Linked DNA regions of Homo sapiens. The protein of the gene in region 2 purifies or fractionates together with the protein of the main gene of each other region. This does not show direct contact. Each region holds a gene or a part of one and is shown on either strand. Other genes may lie near its edges. The genes, in order: MIPEP and EXOC3L2.

Region 1 (3,038 bases), on a different chromosome or scaffold from region 2:
AATTCCTCCAGATTCTGCAAATAGGTTGAATGTGTGTCCTAGTTTTGGGTATTTTGAATCTTTCCTTTCATCATTGGTCTTTGGTGAGAAGCAAGAAGAGGCTGTTAGCAGATGCCTTTTTAAACTGGAAATTCATAATTTGGTTTTGACTTTAATGGTGGGAAAAACCCATTAAATAATTTATTTCCTGATATTAACCAAAATACAGTATGGTATGCAATACTGTAAAGCAAATGAGTTCCAGATAAAAACAGACATGGTCTGTTTCCTGATTCACCAGTTGCTTGACACTGGTATGTCACTTATTAATTGTACCTGCACTTACTCATTCTACCTTCATTGCCAAGCCAGTCCTCTGTGTTCTGAGTCTATTTGCCTAAACATTCAGGAAAAAACAGTACAGATAATTACATGTATTTTGGAAACCACACTTGGTTTGTTGGTTGCCTGTAATTGACTATTTAAAGTGCATTTTCTAAGCCTACTTTAGATAGTGGTCTTAAGAAATGGTCATCATTCTTAAAAGAACTATAAGTGTAACCTGTCTGAAGACTGCTTCAAACTCTGTCTTAAACAATTTTGCTTTTAGTTAATTATTTAATTAAACCAATTAAAGATCCATGGAAAGAGGGAAAAGCTCAACAGGAGAGTGGTTATACTAAGGAAATGCCCATACCCTCCATTTAACAATGCCATGTAGAAGTGTTGTTGTTACTAGGTCAGAGATTTCCATGTGCTCAAATATTTGCCAAACAGGTGAAAAGCCAGAATAATTAAAACAAATTATTTATTCCAAGTTCTACCAGTTTAAAGTTTTTCAGAATTACAGAAGCGAACAATGAAATCAGAAACAAGCTCTCACAGCTGTAGCATTTATAACAAAGTCATTATCTACATGACCTTGATTTAAGAGGTGTAGAGTGTTTCTTTTATTCAGAATCCATGAGGAAAGTTTCGAAGTCCAGATCCAAGTCGGAAACGAGGGCACTTACGAAGTCATCAACAGAAGGACACTTCTGAAGCATACCTGCAAACAAAGGAAAGGTCAGAACTGCGTTCACCAGGAGGCAACAGGAAGCACAAAGACACAAAATCAAATCCACACACTAGAGGAACACTCTGGCTTTCTGAATTAAGACTCTGGCTGTATAACCTGAATGCAAGAACATTTTATAAAGTCATGGGCAGTGTGTGGGCCTTGGAGCTATTTATAATTTTAATGTATTTTTACTATCAAATCCATCCTTAGCTTAGAGATTTAGGCCTAAATATATTTCCTAAGGGCTATTATTTTTGCATATATGACTATACCCTTAGAGACTGATATTAGAAGACTGATTTTTTTTTAGTTATCTTTGACTGGGATGATTCACAATTTAACAAGTTTAATTACATATCAAGTTTTGTTATCAAGTTCTATACACTTTACAATCAATTAGATGTTAATTCTTTTATAGAAATCTTATATCAGAATCAAGTTATTGGCTCTCCTCCAGATTTCCCTGTCCCAGAGAACTCCTAGCTTTGCAACTTAGTAACTGTGTAACGCAGAAGTCACTTAAAATCTCTGGCATCCAAATTTCCTACAAGGTTGCTATAAGGATCAAACAAGAAGATGTAGTAGAAGCAATGAAGCACCATGCCTAGCATATATTAAGAATTCAATAAAAAGCTGAATTCATGTCCTTTCTTCACTCTAAAGAAGCCAAAAACAAAGATTGATGCAATTAACCTTATTGCTTTAACCTACATTCTTGGCAGGAAATGCTAACTGAAGGGTTGAACAGGCTCTATATACTGATATTTACTTTGGGAGATGAATTCTGTAAAACCATTTTCAAAATCAAGGCATTAAAAGATTGCAGGAATCCTCTATTGTTCTCTGAACCTGTATTGCAATTCAGTGAACATGAAGGAAGCATCTGTTGTGTGTAAAGGATCAGGCCAGGTCATGGGCATACAGGTGGGCAGGCTCAGTCACAACATGAAGAGTGAGAGTAGTCGGCTGGGCAGAACTGCATATCCATACGGCAGAAAACTAGCCTTGACTCCTACTGCATACCATACATAAAAACTAATTTGAGATGGTCACAGACCTAAGTGTAAACACTAAAATTATTATCTTAAAAAAACCGCATGAAGTATCTTTGTGACCCTGAAGTAGGTATAGTTTCTTAGGACACAGAAAGCAATGCATAAAAGGAAAAAATGTTAGATTTCATCAAAATTTAAAATGTCTCTTGAAAAGAAACCATTAAGCCAATGAGTAGACAAATGATAGTTGGAAAAAATACTCACAAAACATATCTCACGTAAGACTGGTATCCAGAAAATATAAAGAACTCCTTTGACCCATTGTAAAAATATGTTTTTTTAAATTACAAATTGACAAAAGATTTTACCTTCACAAGGTCAGGTTTTTCACAGAAGATATCTGAATAAGTAACACAACTAATAGGCACTGAGAAGACATTCAACATCATTAGTCACTAGGGAAATGAAAACCAAACCCACAATGAGATACTATTACACATCCACCAGAATAGCTAATTTTTTTTTTTTTTTTTTTTTTTTTTAAAGACAAGGTCTTGCTCTGTTGTCCAGGCCTGGACAACACAGCATGTGCAGTGGTGTGAACATGGCTCACTGCAGCCTCGACTTCCCAGGCTGAAGTGATCCTCCCGTCTCAGCTTGAGAGTAGCTGGAACCACAGGTGTGTGCCACCATGCCCAGCTAGTTTTTAAACTTCTTGTAGAGATGGGGTCTTGTCATGTTGCCCAGGCTGGTCTTGAACTTCTGGGCTCAAGCGATCCTCCTGCCTTGGCCTCTCAAAGTGCTGGGATTACAGGCGTGAGCCACTGTGCTACACCAAATGTTGACAAGGCTGTGTGCAACCTGAATTGTCATACATTTGTGGTGAAAGGATAAAATGATACAATCACTTTGAAAAAAGGTCTTAACCAGTGTCTTACGAAACTAAACATAGACCTACACTAGGACCCAGCAATTTCACTCCCAGGTATTTATCCAAGAGAAAT
Region 2 (2,864 bases):
CAGGGAAAAAAAAAAAAACCACATACACACAAAAAATCCCACAAGTCAGGAAACATCCATCACGGGCTGTCCAGCCCAGGCCGGAGGGGCAGGAGTCAGCAGGGAGGTGACCTCAAGGTCTCCGTGGGGACTAGGATCCGGCGGGGCTGGGGGTGAGAGGCTGGAAATTTTCCCACCCCGAGACTTTCCTGCGTCAACCCAGGAGGGCGCCCTGGATGCCGCCAGCCCTGCCCCCAACCTCCTTCCTCTCCTGACAGGGCAGCTTCCCGGCTAAGGATGGATGGGGAGGGTGTGCCAAGATGGAGCCACCAGGACCAGGAATGGACAGGCACTTTGAGATTGACCAGACGAGGGACCCTGGCTCAGAGTGGCGAAGGCCTGGCCTCAGAGCCACACAGCCAGGAGGTGTACATGGGTTGGCGTCGCTCCCAGCACATGCAGCCTCCCTCTACCTCCACTACCCTGCCCAGGAGCTGGAGCCCAGCCCGGCCTTGGGTGTGTGAGAAGCCACTGGCCCGGGGCCCTGCTTCCCCGGTCCTTCCTCCCCACAACACACTCAGGACTCAGCCCTTCCTTGTGTTAAATAGAAACCTCTTTATTCTAAGTATCGAACGTTCCTTAATACATTGGATTGGGGCCAGACCTTGAGGTGAGGGAAAGGGGCGGGGGAGCTGGGATATTTCTGTAGAGACTTCCAGAACGACACTCACCACTCTGGGCTATGGCAGGAGGGGAGGTGCTGGGAACAGGCTTCATGGCCTTGGGAAAATGCTTTGTCTCTTTGGCCTCTGTTTCCCCCTACCTTTTTTTTTTTTTTTTTTTTTTGAGAAAGGGTCTTGCTTTGTTGACCAGGCTGGAGTGCAGTGGCACAGTCATAGCTCACTGCAGCCTCGAACTCCAGTGATCCTCCAGCCTCAGCCTCACCAGTAGCTGGGACTACAGGCACACACCACCGTGCCCAGCTAATTTTTTATTTTTTGTAGAGATAGGGGGCAGGTCTCACTATGTTGCCCAGGCTGGTCTTGAACTCCTGGGCTCAAGCAATCCTCCGGCCTCAGCCTCCCAAAGTGTTGGGATTACAGGCATGAGCCACCGTGCCTGGCGTTTGTTTCCCTTCTGTACAGGGAGTTTGGGGTTGGGTGAAAAGACATCTAAGGGTCTTTCTATCCCAGGGGTGTGTGGTCCCAGGCAGGGAGTCAGGAGGGGCGCCGTACGGGAGGTTGGCTTGTCAGCAGCATAGATGGGGTCACTAAGGCCGGCGGTTGGGTGACCCTCAGCGCTGGGCCCGAGGTCGCGCTAGAGACGGAGGCCGGGGCCGAGGCAGACAGGCCAAACTGGGCCTGGCCAGCCGGGAGAGGGGGAGGCGGCCCAGGAAGAGAGGGAGGCTGAGACAGAAAGATGGGCGGGGCACAGGGATGTCTGCAAAGAAGGCACGGTCCCGAGGGGGTGACAGGGCTCCCTCCTCAGAGAGTTCCAGGTCCCGGGCCACGGCCAGGATCTCCTGGCGGGCGGCTGTGTTGCGCAGGCCACGGATGTCGAGGAGGGCTGCCACGTGCTTCTGCCTGTGGGGAGAGGAACAGACAGGTGCATGCAGATCCCCAGCTCTAGACACACACCCAACCCAGCCGTGGACCCCACCTGACCCCCTCACCTATCCCAGAAATTGCCTGAGTTCTGGGGCCTCTGTGTCCCCTCCAGAGCCTTCCCTCCAATCAGCTCCCTTGCCCAGGCCCTCACCTCATACCAGCTCCCTCCAGAACTTCACTTCCAACCATCTCCAAATCCCCCTTACAACCAACCCCAGAACCAGCCCTGGGATCTTCCTTTTCACCCCAAGCCTCAGCTCGTGATTAAAATTCACCTTCTCAGCTGGGTGCCGTGGCTCATGCCTGTAATCCCAGCACTTTGGGGGGCCAAGGCAGGCGGATCACCTGAGGTCAGGAGTTCGAGACCAGCCTGGCCAACATGGCGAAACCCTCTCTCTACTAAAAATACATTAAAAAAAAAAAAAAGCTGGGTGTGGTGGCAGGCGCTTGTAATCCTAGCTACTCAGGAGTCTGAGGCAAGAGAATCCCTTAAACCTGGGAGGCAGAGGTTGCAGTGAGCTGAGATCGCGCCACTGCAGTCCAGCCTGGGTGACACAGCGAGACTCCATTTCAAAAGTAAAAAAAAGAAAGAAACCTTGTACCCCACTCCCCCTAAATCCTCAGCCCTAGGTACCTCCTAATCTCAAGCTCAACCCCCTAAACCCAACCCAGCTAGCAAACTCTTAAACTTAGCTACAGATTCAAGTTCTGACTCATGATCCAATATTCAAGTTCAGAAACTCCACATCAGCAAGAATACTGGGACTTCTTGGGACCCCATGGGACTCCAGGAATATGTGCCTTCCCAAGGACATGACCTTATCCCCCAGAATCAGAACTGACCACCCTGAATCAATTCCAGGACCCCCACCCTCAGTGCTGAAACTGAAACCCGCTCATGCCTCACTCCTTGTTTTTCTGGGGTTCTGTTTCTCTGAGTATGTCTGAGAATGTGTCTGCCCAAATAGCACTGCAAGGACTGGCGTTGCTCCGGCAGCCACCACCACTGCCACCACCATCCAGCACTGTCACATGGTGGTGTGGTGTGCTGATCTGGTACACTAGTTTTTTTGTGTGTTTGTTTGTTTGTTTGTTTGTTTTGAGACAGAGTCTTGCTCTGTTGGCCAGGCTGGAGTGCAGTGGCGCGATCTCAGCTCACTGCAACCTCCGCCTCCTGGGCTCAAGCAATTCTCCTGCCTCAGCCTCCCGAGTAGCTGGGATTACAGGAGTGTGCCATCACACCTGGCTAATTTTTGTATTTTTAGTAGAGACGGTGTT

What was found.
Region 1: the proteins of EXOC3L2 (region 2) and MIPEP purify together in Homo sapiens (affinity purification with mass spectrometry; 2 studies listed by BioGRID and IntAct, with this or other methods). This does not show direct contact.

Annotation. Positions count from the first base shown.
Region 1 is NC_000013.11:23,729,419-23,732,456, forward strand, and holds the end of MIPEP (mitochondrial intermediate peptidase), read right to left. Parts: intron 1,028-3,038; coding exon 930-1,027; 3' UTR 771-929; downstream 1-770. UniProt on the Homo sapiens protein: Cleaves proteins, imported into the mitochondrion, to their mature size.
Region 2 is NC_000019.10:45,211,796-45,214,659, forward strand, and holds the end of EXOC3L2 (exocyst complex component 3-like protein 2), read right to left. Parts: intron 1,563-2,864; coding exon 1,274-1,562; 3' UTR 575-1,273; downstream 1-574.